4 linked regions of the Homo sapiens genome follow. The protein of the gene in region 1 purifies or fractionates together with the protein of each later gene. This does not show direct contact. Each region holds a gene or a part of one and is shown on either strand. Other genes may lie near its edges.

Region 1 (2,962 bases):
CACTCTAGTGTAAATTTGTATTACCATATCTCTGTGAAATCCATGAGCTATTCAATGGAGTAACATCACTAAAATGTATTGAAGCAATTTGGCTAATGTGGAAGAATAAAAAAGAACGTATGTGCTTTGGCCAAGCATCAGTGTGTGTCCTTTGTCTAAAAATATAAGAATCTGGCAGCAGCTTTGGTTAAAAAACAGTAACGGACATGAGATCAAATTTACCCTGTAGGAAATTCACCCAGATGTAGATGCACATCACTTAGATATGCATTACACCCATTTGTCTTATTCATACAAAATGGCTTAATGATTAGAAAACACCAACATAAATACTTGGGAAGGAGAAGATACTAAATCAAAGAAGTAAGTCTTTCATTGAAAGCCTCTATTCACCACTGCAGGAGCAGGACGGCTCACTTAAAATATATAAATATCCGTTTACAGTTGGAGTACTAATTGGGATTTTTAAAAAATTTAATTAGTCACATATATATTTTACATTTCTTGGAAGACTGTTTTTTTCTTTTTAAGGTAAAATCATGACTCTCATACAAATATCAACATGTGTCAAAAGATTTTATTAAACTAATTCAATTTGTTAGGGAAATGGTAAGATGTTACAACTGGTTAAGAGGAGCATTAAAAGTGCAGACATATATTCAGGCCATCAAGAATGAGGAAATGAATTTGCTAAATTGATGCAACATCAATCAATAGCCAGGGCCTGTCATTCACAGACAATCACTCCACCACACGCACACATACATTCCTACGGTTTGTCCACAACTTCCAGAGCTGAAGAGTAGCTCAAGGACATCAAAGGGCAGAGGCCCCTAGGAAGGGCTGAGCCACAATGAAGCAGTGCTCCTTCACTCCCGATTTCCATGGCTACCACCGTTTTTCTCTGGCAAATCAGAGACGAATTTTAAAGACTGAGTAAATCTATAAAAGCGATTAATCACAGAAGTTCAATGTCTGATAAATTATTCCAAAAGTGTTCCTGGGCACTGAGACTCACCAAGCATACATTCTGAAATCAAATTCTATTTCTATCCAAAAAGTGCAGCCCATCAGTGTTCTTAAAGGAGGCAAATGGTTGTTGTGAGGTAGCAAACATTTTCCAATGCAGGTAAGGATGTAGATACCAGGTAAATGTTACAGTTGTGTTCATACTAACAATAAACTATGGATGACGTGGCACAGAGTCAGTCAATGAGGAAAGATCCAGAGACATTCTGAGGTCACAAAAAGAATTTAAATGTTAGCTAACAAGGAGTGCTCATCAAAAACAGGACTTTCCCACTCAGACTGCAAACCAGGCAGAACTACCATCTCGCTTTATCAGTTGTCATTGCATGTTGACATCAACACTGAGGAGAGTGATGCAGACGATAGATATAAACATATCTACATACATATGCATACATAAAGCATATACTTATATGCATACACAGTTTACATTTCCCAGCCAGTGTTCAGAAAAACTAGAAGAGAGAAGTGATGTTCCATTTTGTCTTGGAAAAGTATATATTTTACATATACATGCATGCATATGTCTACATACATATGCATGTAATGCCTACCTGCATATTACCAAACTGATACACACATGTATATATGGAGGTGTGTGTGTATATACATGTACATTCACTTTATCACATACTCCATCAGCTTGACTTCTGAGATGGTAATTCAAGTTTCATCTTTGTTCTGGGCTTCGTTTCTGTCTCTACTGTATTTTTTGTCTCAACCGTCAAGTCACATTTTATCAACACGTTAGACTGGGACAAACCAACATGGGATGGAAACTCCAATCTCAGGAGGCTAAAATCACAGCGCAGGTTGGGATTGAAGAGTTGCTGATTTCCTTTCCCTTTCCCCCAGCAGTGTGGACCATGAGAGTGGGCTGGGGGCGGAAGACTGAGGCCCTCCCTCTCACTCATAGGAGGGCAAACCAAACAGCTCGGGCTGGAAGTCCTGCAGGGAATTCAGCACCAGGGTGGCCTTTGTTGTCAGATCTCGGCTCAAGTTTCCGTCAGGAACCATGACCACCTGCATCCCAGCTGCCAGGGCCGCCTCCACCCCATTGGGAGCATCTTCAAAGACAAGGCACTGTAGGAAGAAAAAGAAAGTCGAGATGGCCTTTTATGGAACCAGACATGTGGATGAAGTGTTTATTATCGTCGTCACCATTGGCTCTGCAACTGTGCAGAAAGAGACAGAATTACAGTGGGGGCTCCCCAGAGTAGAGATTGTGGTGAGGACAGCATGCTGTTTCTTACTGGCTCCGGGGGTCTCCCCGCCGTGGCTCCTTTAAAGGGGAGAGGTTTCTGTTGCAGCCAAAGCATTGTTGAAATGGAGCGCAGCTGTGTGGTGAGGCAAGATTCTCAGCTTAAAACTTTATTATTTTATTGGGATCATAACAATCTGTTCAATCAATAATTGAACATTCAGAGTGTGAGAGGCAATTGCAAAACTAAAAATCATGCTCTTAAAATATAAAACCACTTCAGAGCTGCTCCTGTTTTATGTACTGTGGTTTGAAAATTAAATGGTTAGAATCTTTTAAGTTAAAAATTCAGTTCCTGTGTGTGCTAGTGTGACGTGACAAATGAGCACGAAAACGTAGTGTGCGTGCATGCTCTCTTTTGGATAATCGCGAAAATCCACTTTATTATTGGGATTACAGACACAACACCATCCAAAACCCGTGGTCTCTTCATTCAGATACCCACATTGAAAATGGGGTGTTTCCTACTGGCAACTGCAAAGATATGGAACCAACCTAAGTGCCCATCCACCAATGAGCGGATAAAGAAAATGAGGCATATATACACCATGGAATACTACTCAGACATAAAAAGGAATGAAATAATGTCTTCTGCAGCAACATGGATGGAGCTGGAGGCCATTATTCTAAGTAACTCAGGAATGGAAATCCAAATATCGTATGCTCTCACTT
Region 2 (3,595 bases), on another chromosome or scaffold:
GCCACTGCACTCCAGCCTTGGTGATAGAGCAAGACTCTATCTCCAGAAAAAAAACAAAATCCCCACCCAGCCCACCTGGCAGAGCAGATGCAAGGAGGGAGGTAAAGGCCTGTGGAGACTCTGCTGGTCTCACAGCCTATCTTCACCCTATCTCCTCCCTCATTCTCTCCTCCCTACATCCGACCCTCCTCACAGCCTGTCCCACGGGCCAGTGCTCAGAGAACCCCGCAGTGGGGTGGGGGCCAGGACTCCTTGGGCTCCCCAAAGCCTGAAGATGGGGGTGAGGGAATGCAGGGTGACTGCCTACCTCCCAGCTGTCCAGACGGCCAACGAGGGTGAAGGCGTGGCCCGGGGAGCCGTGTAGCCGCGTGTGGTGTCCCTGCAGGACAAGGTCACGCAGCTCCCGGCCATGCAGGGCCTTGGAGTGGGCTGTATCCAGGCCAGTCACCAAGCAGCCAGCGCCTATGTGAATGGGGCCCTGGTGGGGGACAGGGCAGGCATCCTGGGTGGGCAGGCACCCAACACCCCCCAACACATGCGGGATGCCAGCACCCTCGCCCCAATCTGCCCACACGCTCAGGCCTCACCTGCAGGTGGCAGTGCTGCAGGACGCTCCCAGGACCCAGCTGGACAGGGCCCTCCAGCAGGCAGCTGACCACAGAGCTCCCGGCCGCCAGAAGCTGCTGCTCCTGTGCAGCCAGGTAGGAGGAGCATGAGGGGGGTCGAGGCCCAGGGCTGCCCCAGCTCTCCTCCCAAGCCAAGCATCCAGGGGCAAAGCGTCCAGGCCTACTGCTCCCCTGCCCTGCAGCACCCTAGACTCCTCTCTGGACCTGCCTTGGCCCCAGCCTGAGACCTATTTCCATCCCACCTGTCCAACTACGCCCAACCTTGCCACCCTGGGGGCCACCTCTGAACCCTACCTGTCCCCTTCCTCAGCAGCACGGCACTGACCCAGGCCCACCACTGTCACCCCAGGCAGACCCCAAATAAAGGTCTCCTTTAGCTTCTCAATCAGGCAAGCTCAATGCAGAATCCTGAGTTGGCCACTTACTGGCTCTGTGGCCTTAGGCAAGTTACTTAGCCTCTCTGAGCCTCCAGCACTTCATGTGTAAACCAGGGTAACACCTGCACTCGGGTCATCTGTTCCAAGTGCCGGCTATTTTCTTCCCGGGAATCCACATCCCACCTGACCCCAGACAACCAGCAGGCACCGGAGGGGCAGGGAGGTCTCACCTCCACCTGGGAGTGCACAATCTGGGCCCCAGGAGCCCCGGGGAGTGTGAGGCTGAGCAGGAACTCACTGGCTGAGGAGGTCATGTAGCTGTAGCTGCCGCTGGAGACATAGGCTGTAAAGACATAAGTACTGAACCCAACCCCATGCCTGCTGCGACTCAGGGGCCAGGCTGCCTCCCAGCAGCAGAGACACATGGGGGCAGGTGTGGCCATGAGCCTGTTAGGGGAAGCTGAGTCAGGAACCTGCCCAAAGCCACACAACACAGCTAGAAAGTAGACAGGTTGGCCGGGCACAGTGGCTCACGCCTGTAATCCCAGCACTTTGGGAGGCCGAGGCAGGCAGATCACGAGGTCAGGAGTTCGAGACCAGCCTGACCAACATGGTGAAATCCCATCTTTACTAAAAATACAAAAATTAGCCAGGCATGGTGCCACGCACCTGTAATCCCAGCTACTCAGGCAGCTGAGGCAGGAGAATCGCTTGAACCTGAGACGCAGAGGTTGCAGTGAGCCGAAATTACGCCACTGCACTCCAGCCTGGGCAACAGAGCCATACTCTGTCTCAAAAAAAAAAAAAGAAAGCAGACAGGTTAGGGCCGGGCATGGTGGCTCATGCCTGTAAGCCCAGCACTTCGGGAGGCCAAGGCAGGCGGGTCACCTGAGGCCAGGAGTTCAAGACCAGCCTGACCAACTAAAAATAGAAAAATTAGCCAAGTGTGATGATGCATGGCTATTATCCCAGGTACGCAGGAGGCTGAGGCAGGAGAATTGCTTGAACCCAGGAGGCGGAGGTTGCAGTGAGCTGAGATCGCACCACCTCACTCTAGCCGGGGCGACAAAGAGAGAGTCCGTCTCAAAAAACAAAACAAACAAACAAAAAAAAACAGAAACAAAAGTGGACAGGCTGGGAGAGCCCAGGAATGAGACAAAAGGAAGACAAGAAGGGGAAGGAGGTAGCTCAGTGGGGGGCTCTGGCACAGGACAGGAGAACTGCCCAGTCCCTGTGCTGGGCTGCCTGGCCCAGCATGCAGTGAGCAGCTCCATTCTTGGGGTCCTCACTCCCATGGTCTCCCCACCCCAGGGAGCTGAGAGGCAGTACCCACCCATGGTAAGGGGCTGATCGCGAAGCTCCCTCCACAGCTGGGCCCGGGCGCTCTGCAGATAACCCGCTACATCTGCATCGCCTTGCCCCAACTCTGGGGGCCTCCCCACCAGGAAGTCCTCCCTGGTCACGTTCTCAGCCATGCAGTGGAGAATGTCAAAAAACAGAGACAGCTAGGGGAAGGGGAAGAAGCACAGCTATTGGCATGGCAGGGGTTCAGCCCCCAAGTTCTGAGGCTGAACCAGGGCAGTCCCGTCTGCGGAGACTCTGCCCCAGAGAGGGGAAGTGGCTGGCCTGAGGTCACACAGTGCCTCGCCCCCAAGCCAGGCCCCACCTAGCTGCCCTCCCCCAGTCACCTGGACAGGCCGGGCTCCGGAGTCCAAGCCTAGGTAGGTGCAGGCATCCAGGGGCGGGCTCACGTGGGTGGCTAGGAGGCGCTCGGCAGTCTCCACAGAGAAGAAGACAACCCCAGAGACCTGGAAGGGACCCCAAAAGGATCAGAGATGGAGGGCCCTGGACCAGGCCCTGGTACAAGTCAGGGAGGGCACATGCAGATGGGCCACATGAAGCTGAGTGCCATACCAGGCAGGGAGTGTCACCTTCTGACCACTCCAGCAGCCAGACTCCAGGCTTACTTGGGGTAGCTCCCACCAAGACACCTTCTGGGACACCCTCAACTGTCAGGCCTTCTCCTGAACCCAGTTCTCCACCCTCGCCATGGTCCACTCCCAGATCTCCATGCCTCTCCAATCCTTGCCCCTCATGATGGAAGCATTCCCGGAGTCTGGCTCTAGGCCTCCTCCCAACCGCACTCCCTAACTTGCTCACATTCTGGTTCTAGGCTTTCTTTTTTCGTTTGAGTTTTTGAGGTTTGCTTTGTTTTGTTTTACAGCGGGCAGGGGATTGATTCAGAGTCTCGCTCTGTCACCCTGGCTGAAGTGCAGTGGCACGATCTCTGCTCACCGCAACCTCCGCCTCCTGGGTTCAAGCGATTCTCGAGCCTCTACCTCTCAAGTAGTTGGGATTACAGGCACACACCACCATGCTCAGCTAATTGTTGTATTTAGTAGAGACAGGGTTTCACCACGTTGCCCAGACTGGTCTCGAACTCCTGACCTCAACTGATCCACCCGCCTCAGCCTCCTAAAGTGCTGGGATTACAGGCGTTAGCCACCGTGCCCGCCTGGTTCTAGGCTTTCTGGCTCAGGACAAGACCCTGAATTCCAAGGCTACCCTGTCCTCAGATTCTAGCTCTAGCTT
Region 3 (3,595 bases), on another chromosome or scaffold:
AGGAAAAACCTGCCTTGGTCTACCAGTCACAGCCTGTGCCTCTGCCTCTGTTTCTTGCTCAGGATGGCTGCTTCTATAGCACTGGAAGCTTTGGAGGCCTTATATGGTTAGGCTTTGTTTTAAGGGAAATTTGGGGGCACAGTGAGTTCTGTCTGTGAAAGAAGTCAAGCGAAGGGAGTCCTGCGATGCAGAAGTAGAGAAAGCAATAGGGAGCAATAGGTAGTGGGAGAGTACAGAAACCAAGAAACTACCCAAATCAGGAAGAATGAAAAAGAACAGCAGTAGCAGTGGAGAGGGAAAACGAGATCTCCAATTGACTGAACAGAACACTCAGCTCAAAAATCAACTGATAAAAGTCATTTTCTGAATGCCTACTGTATGCTAAGTCAAGTGAGCTAAGATCAGTGTATACTAGCCTCTGAAAGATTTCTACTGTAGAGAACAACGTGGCATTTCTTCAGGGGATGGAGATGACTCTGATAAGGTCTCTACACTTGAGTTCTGTTTTGGAAAAGTAGAGAAACCACCAGTAGAGTACAGGATGGCAAACATCTAGGAGAATCCAGAGCACACTACAGCCTGGTAGGAGGCTGAACCAGACTCAAAATACTTCAGGAAAGCATGATGTGGGTCAAGGGTTGCACCTAAGGAAGGTGAATAAATTCATCTCTTCCAATGGGGTAGAGCAGATGCAACCAGGCAGTACAATCAACAGTTTTTTCAGGGACTGAAAGGTAGTGGGGATCCTTTATGCCTGATCCAAGGAATGAGCCAAACATTAGTACCTCCTCCTCTTCCCAATTCTGCCTTTGTAACTTAACAAGCATTATTTATGCAGCCACTTAATTTTAAGGAGTTGGCTCTTAGACACTTAAGGTAGGAACAGTAATCTTTCCTGTTTTCAAGGAGATCGCTGTAAGAAAACAAGTGCATCAGACCCCTGAAAAACTACAGATTATGAAAAGCTAAAGGACAGACTGCTGACAGGGTTTCTGCTAGAGGTTTTGGAATGGTGGAAAAGAGGTAGAGACAGGGAGGTGAAGGAGAGGAAGAAGTGGCAAGTGCCTTTTCCCCCACTATCTCCCTGTTTTGGATTTTCCCCACAACTGTTGATATACATCTATAAATGAGAAATTCAATTATAACCAGCTTATTTAAAATATCCTCTATGATAGAAATCTACTTAAGTTAAAAAAATCAAAGGGAAACTAGATGCCTAATATGTAATAGCTAGTATTTTCATTCATTCATATGTTACCTATCAAGATTCTAAAATGTCCCCACTTTTCAGCAAGTCTTCAACCCACTGTTCCTAAAATTATTGACCACTTGGTCAGATAAGATTAAAGACCAATCATCTAAAACTCATTTTCTTTACCTGAGTCTGGCATAGCTCAGTCCAAAGTTTGGGGAACAGTGCAAGATGAAGTGGCAAACCTTCATAGGCAACTAGGACACCTAATATTTGAAAAGAAATCAGAATAGGTTATAATTATAAATTATACTAGTGAGATACTCAACTCTGCAGGTACAATATTACAGCTATTTCTAGTCATAACTGCATATTTTCTATATTTTAAAGTACATAAAGGGGAAAAATTCATTCCAATGTTTAGTGAAATATCTTAGAATGTGGTACTTTGAATTTATTTATATCCTATACCTCATTCCTGAAGGATATGGGACTTAAATCAACTCTTCTTTTTTGAGTATTAGAACTTTATCTGGGAAAAGAAAAAGTTACTGCAAGTGGCTCCAAATCTTTCTTGGATTAAGGTACCACTCTGCCTATTAGATAATTTTCATAGGGTGGCTAGACTGCAGGAGGGAGGAGGGGAAAGGTAAAAAAAAAAAAAAAAAAAAAAAAGTGGAGAATTAAACATATCTTTCCTCTTTTACCTTCTTTCTTCAAAGATAGAATGACCTTTGTGGTACATTTAAGTAAATGCGGCCCTTAACACCAGTTTCTTGGCTTGTTCCCAGGATCTTCTGAGTGGACCGCATCTGGCACTATGTCAGAGAGTGCTATTTGGAACCTCTATGAATTTACTTCTCCACTTCTTGACTATTCCAGATGTAAAATATGTCACTAAGATGTGTGCCCCTATCCTCTGTCATCCTATCTCTGAAAGTACAGAAGCTTCATTACCACAGTCCTAAATGAATTTCCCATCTTCCACATCCCCTAGGGTCCCCAGGGCAAGTATAATCATGGAGAAGAAGAAATATAACACAGACCATCCTCTTCCAGTTAAGAAAAGACTGAGTTAGACAAGGAGTCAGCAAACTTGTTCTGGGAAGGGCCAAATAGTGTTTGAGGCTTTGTGGCCATGCTCTGTTAACACAGCTCAACCCTGCTGAGGCAGTGTGAAGGCAGCCTTAGACAAGAGTAAGGAAATGGGTGTGGCTGTCTTTCAGTAAAACTTTACAAACACTGAAATGGGAATCTCATAATTTTCATGTCAGAAAATATTCTATATTAAAAAAAAATTTAAAAATATGAAAACTATTCTTAGCTAGCAGGTAGCCATGGTTATACAAAAACAGGCAGCATGTGGGTTGTAATTTGCCAAACCGTGGGTTAGACCAAGGACTTGAGAACATCCTACACAGGCAAGTCAGGTCACTCACTCAGAACTTACCAAGGATGCCTAGGATCCCTTCCACAGGTAAGCCAATTTATTTTCCTGTCAAGATGAGTCCCTTTAGACACAAGAGGCAAGGAAATGCTACTTCCCCTTTATCCTAACCTAATCTGGTTGGTGTTTGGCAGCATATACCCACCACGGTATCACCACACACATAGGTAAACAAGGACATGTCATCACATCTGTGGCTATAGGGAAGAGAGTTCCTACGTTCCCATGTTCCTGTATCCTAATTACTCATCAAAGTAGAGGAAGGGTTAGCAAACTATGGCCCTCAGGCCAAATCTGACCCATGGCCTGTTTTTATATGGACTTGTGAGCTAAGAATGGCTTTTTCTTTGAGACAGACAGTGTCTTCACTCTGTTGCCCAGGTTGGAGTGCAGTGGCGTGATCACAGATCAGGGGCAGCCTTGAACCGCTGTGCTCAAGTGATCCTTACACCTTAGCCTCCGTAGTAGCTAAGACTGCAGGCTGGGACAATTTTCTTAAAAAAATATTTTGGGGCCAGGCGCAGTGGCTCATGCCTGTAATCCCAACACTTTGGGAGGCCAAGGTGGGCGGATCACCTGAGGTCAGGAATTCGCAACCAGCCTGACCAACATGGAGAAACCGTCTCTAGTAAAAATACAAAACTAGCAGGGCGTGGTGGCACATCCCTGTAATCCCAGCTACTTGGGAGGCTGACGCAGGAGAATTGCTTGAACGCGGCAGGCGGAGGTTGCGGTGAGCCGAGATCGTGCCATTGCACTCCAGCCTGGACAACAAGAGTGAAACTCTGTCAAAAAAAAAAAAAAAAAAAGTTTTGGGCCAGGTATGGTGACTCACGCTGGTAATCCCGGCACTTTGGGAGGCCGAGGCAGGAGAATAATGAAACCCCGTCTCTACTAAAAATACAAAAATTGGCTGGGTGTGGTGGCACACACCTGTAATCCCAGCTATTCAGGAG
Region 4 (4,315 bases), on another chromosome or scaffold:
AATTCAAGCAGCGCTTCTGTTATTTTTATTTCAAGTCTGTGCACAAACATCACCTACTCGATGAGGCCAAATCTGACCAGTCTATTTAAAATGTTGATTTGTTACCCTCTCTGCTTTTTCTATCACACCTGTAAATATTTATTATGTTCACTGCCATACCCACTAAGAAGTAAATTCACAAATGCAGAAATCTCTTCTGCTTTGTTCACTGAGAAACTCCAGGCTTCTGTAGAAAAGTTCCTCTTGAGTAATTACCATGAAAAACAGGTCTAAAGAGGGAGAAAAAAAATAACTTCCCTAGGTGATTAGAAAAAATTAAAGTTGATACATACAGTCAGTATATGACCTCTTCTCCCCAAGCCCAAGGCCATAAATGGCTGGACCTTTCCCTCTTCCTCCATTCATAAATTATTATTATTTTTTGAGACGGAGTCTGGCTCTGTCGCCCAGGCTGGAGTGCAGTGGCGCGATCTCGGCTCACTGCAAGCTCCGCCTCCCGGGTTCACGCCATTCTCCTGGCTCAGCCTCCCCAGTAGCTGGGACTACAGGCGCCCGCCAACACACCCGGCTAATTTTTGTATTTTTAGTAGAGACGGGGTTTCACCGTGTTAGCCAGGATGGTCTCCATCTGCTGACCTCGTGATCTGCCCATCTCGGTCTCCCAAAGTACTGGGATTACAGGCGTGAGCCACCGCGCCCGGCCCATTCATAAATTATTTACAATGATTTGTAATTATAAAGGAGGCAGTAATAGAACCAAGTCTCGAAGTAAAAATTTGTATCCATCCATCCAGCATTTATTCAACATTTGCCATGTGTCAAACGAGGATAATTAAGACAGCTTGTTCCCTCCCAAGAAGCTCACTATTTAGTAGTAGGCACCTGAGTTGCAAAATTAATTGAAATATCCTTTGACAGATGCATTAAGAAATATCTGAACAAAATACAGCACTACTATAAGTGAGGGTGTAAAGACCAGGGAGGCATACGATTTAGTCTTTGTTTTAAAAATATTGCTGTGGCAAGAATGTGGAGGACACACTGGATGTGGTAAACCTGGAGACAAGCCCACAGCAACAGTCTAGGTGAGAGATGAGTTCAGCTGTAACTGAGACATGCACGGGGCATGTGCAGTGGTGGACAGACAGCGTACGAGGGTGGAAGGTGCTATAGTTCGCTGAGTGGACACTGCAACCATGGGCTTCCCAAGTATTACAGGGTTATTGAGGACTAATATAATTCACATTTTATGAAGATATAAGGCTCCGAGTGGTTAATTCCTTGAGGCACTTTCAGCTAGGTTTTGGGAGAGCTGTGATTCATATTCAAATGTCTGATTTTAAAGCCCAAACTCTGGGCCTACAGCAAGAATTGGCCTAAAGCAATAATTTAATTGAAATGCACAGGACTCAGCTTACTAATAACACACAGGTAAATATGTAACATCTGCAGCGAGAGATACTGGAGGCAATATGGCACAGGGTGGCACCCCTGAGGTGGAGGCCAACAAGTTAAAAGTGTGGAATGCCTCAGTAAAGTCATGAAGACAGACTTTAAAAATGTCTACTGATTCCGGCATTTTGGGAATGCCTAGTGATCCAGCAAGTCTATTTCAGTCTAGCGGTGAAGATAAAGCGACATTACGATGGATTTAGTAATAAATAGGAGGTAGAGACAAGGAGATAACGGGTATAGATTTCTCCGGGAAAACATGGCTGTCAAGAGAGACAGGCAACATCTACAGCAGGAAGAATAGCCCAAAGGGAGGCATCCTTTTTACAGCTTTTTTAAAACTATAGGGCAAACATGAATATGCGGCAGGAGTGGAATGCAGCTAAAAAGAAAACGGATGAGGTAGTGGAAGATCCAGGGACACAAAAACTAACTGATGAAGCATGAAGAGGACGGGGCGCTCAGGTTTGGATGAATTAGCTTTTGAAAGTGAGTTTTCCACATCTGATAAATCCTTCCCTTTCCCCTTGAAGCTGAAGGTAGAGAAAGGGAAGCCGGGGTGGACTGGGGCTGGAACACGGGAAGGTCTGAAAGCGCCTCCGCGCGTGTAGAGGGGCAGTGCCGCGGAGGAGCGCCTCAGGAAGGGCATGCCCTCGCAGCACGGGCTTTTGCTGTGTCACGTGTCAGAAAGCCACGGTGACCACCACCCCGCCAGGGAGGCCAGAAGAAGTTCTGCGGCGACAATTCTCTAAAGCAGGGCTTAAGTCCAGGCTCGGTACTGACAGCCGTGTCCCTTCTTGGGTCAACACTGGGGCTAACTCTACCATGTCTCCTCCCAGCAACCCCGAAAGTCGCATGGGGGACACGACCCTCTGTCGAGCTCCACACCGACAGTCTGACCGGGGGCGGGACCAGCGCCTGGTCTCGCGGCTTTGCTGTCGCCTCCCGCGCCCACGGGCACCTCCGCCACCGTGGCAGCCGTCACGGAGCCCTTCCGCGTCCCGAGCGCCAAGGCACCTGCGAGCAGCCGCTCCAGGGCTCGAGATTGGGTGACAAGCGGCCGCCAGGCCAGGGAAAGCAGACCCGCAGGGCCCGCGCGCCTCCAGCCACCTCCGCACCCGCACGCTCCACAGGTTTCAACCAGCAAGAGCGGCCCGCGGCGCCGGGGTGGAAGTGGGGTCAAGGGGAGGTGAGCGTGCAGGACGGGGCGGGGCGCACTGACCCCGCCCAGAGGAGCGCCATGGGTGGGGACGTTACCTCCAACATGCCTCTCCTGCTCGCCCCGGCCGTGTCGATGAGAGTGTTGTCCAAGTCAAAGAAAACCGCCCGCACGCGGCTCAGCCCCATAGCGCCGGCCGCTGGCGCGAACCGTAGCCTTGCCACCGCCGCCTGCGCATGCGCAAGGCGGACTGCCCAGAGAGACGTGGGAGGAGCCGCGAAGTCACCAGACCATCTCCCGGCGCGGGTGGAATTCCCGCGATCTGTCTCATTCCCTGCGCCGCCGAGAAAAGTGAGATCCCGCGAGACTCCCAGGGTATGGTCTCTCAAGAGCCCTGGAAACGTGTGTCGGCGCCGCCGGATGCGGCGACTTCTCAGTGGCTGTGGCTGGCGTTGGTCCGAAGCGTGGTGTTCTTCCCTGGTGTCTTTCTGCTTATCTCTTTCCTCCCTGGGCCCTCCGGCGCGAGGGACCGTCATCACCTCCCCGAGAGAGGTTGTCCGCGCTGCCAGGCGCTGGGCAGCAGGCTCTCCGGGTGGCCGGGCGGGCGGCGCGGAGACGTCGGCGGGCCTGATGTCTGCCTTGAGCGCCCGCGGTCCTAGCCTGCCTGTACGCGCAGGTCACTGTAGGTGATCTGGGGACGGGGGAAGGTGGAGCCTGCGCCTTCCCGCCTCGCGCCATTTGCGGCCTTCGCCGGGGTGGAATCCCTGTCTGCCTGGGCCCGCGCCAGCACGTTTCTGAAGGATGTGACTTGGGTCTCTTACAACCCGTTTAGTACCTGTGCCCTAAGACGGAGGGGCTGTGTAGTGGCTGCCCCATGTTTTGCCCTTCCTGATTGTTTTCCTGAAACCTTGCGTTCTCAGGTCTTTGGATGCCTTTTACTCGGTTGTTTTCAGGCATAGCAAGAGGTTGAGGGACGTCGACCGCCTTTTAAACCCGCGGAAGGGCTGTAGCAACTCTTGTCTCCTAGTGCTGGCAGAACGGGGATCGTAACACTAATCTCTAATCTTTGTCTCTCTTGGGTACCTTTACTGTAATTTGGATATGTGGTCATCATTAGTGACCAGAAATTGACTGTCAGGTACAGGCCAATTACCTGATTTTGTTTAGCCAGTGAGCTAAGTGGTTTTTTTTATTTTTTAATTTATTTTTATTTTTATTTTCGAGATGGAGTCTTGCTCTGTCACCCAGTCTGGCGTGTAGTGGCACGATCTTGGCTCACTGCAACCTCCGCCTCCCGGGTTCAAGCAATTCTCCGGCTTCAGCCTCCTGAGTAGCTGGGATTACAGGCGCATGCCACCACCCCCCGGCTAATTTTTGTATTTTTAGTAGAGACGGAGTTTCACCATGTTGGCCAGGCTGGTTCTCGAACTCCTGACTTCGTGATCCACCCGTCTTGGCCTCCCAAAGAGCTGGGATTACAGGCGTGAGCCACCGCGCCTGGCTAAGGGTGATTTTTACATTTGTAAATGGATTTAAAAAATCAAAATAACAGTGTTTTGTTACACATGAAAATCAAGAAATTTTAGTGCCCATAGTTGCATTAGAACACAGCGCACACATTCATTTCTGTATCGTCTGTGGCTGCTGTTGCCATACAGAAGCAGACAGAGTTGAGTAATTGTAAGCGAGACCACGTGGCTGGAA

What was found. Proteins that work in one complex are often made in the same cells at the same time.
Region 2: the proteins of PUDP (region 1) and FCSK purify together in Homo sapiens (affinity purification with mass spectrometry; one large-scale study listed by BioGRID and IntAct). This does not show direct contact.
Region 3: the proteins of PUDP (region 1) and USP34 purify together in Homo sapiens (affinity purification with mass spectrometry; one large-scale study listed by BioGRID and IntAct). This does not show direct contact.
Region 4: the proteins of PUDP (region 1) and NANP fractionate together in Homo sapiens (co-fractionation; one large-scale study listed by BioGRID). This does not show direct contact.

Annotation. Positions count from the first base shown.
Region 1 is NC_000023.11:7,048,361-7,051,322, forward strand, and holds the end of PUDP (pseudouridine-5'-phosphatase), read right to left. Parts: intron 2,113-2,962; coding exon 1,936-2,112; 3' UTR 560-1,935; downstream 1-559. UniProt on the Homo sapiens protein: Dephosphorylates pseudouridine 5'-phosphate, a potential intermediate in rRNA degradation. Pseudouridine is then excreted intact in urine.
Region 2 is NC_000016.10:70,468,065-70,471,659, reverse strand, and holds part of FCSK (L-fucose kinase), read right to left. Parts: intron 2,812-3,595; coding exon 2,692-2,811; intron 2,509-2,691; coding exon 2,337-2,508; intron 1,347-2,336; coding exon 1,234-1,346; intron 690-1,233; coding exon 588-689; intron 479-587; coding exon 308-478; intron 1-307.
Region 3 is NC_000002.12:61,191,523-61,195,117, forward strand, and holds part of USP34 (ubiquitin carboxyl-terminal hydrolase 34), read right to left. Parts: intron 1,459-3,595; coding exon 1,379-1,458; intron 1-1,378. UniProt on the Homo sapiens protein: Ubiquitin hydrolase that can remove conjugated ubiquitin from AXIN1 and AXIN2, thereby acting as a regulator of Wnt signaling pathway.
Region 4 is NC_000020.11:25,621,150-25,625,464, forward strand, and holds the start of NANP (N-acylneuraminate-9-phosphatase), read right to left. Parts: upstream 2,866-4,315; 5' UTR 2,800-2,865; coding exon 2,710-2,799; intron 1-2,709. UniProt on the Homo sapiens protein: Catalyzes the dephosphorylation of N-acylneuraminate 9-phosphate (Neu5Ac-9-P) to N-acetylneuraminic acid (Neu5Ac or sialic acid). Can also use N-glycoloylneuraminate 9-phosphate as substrate.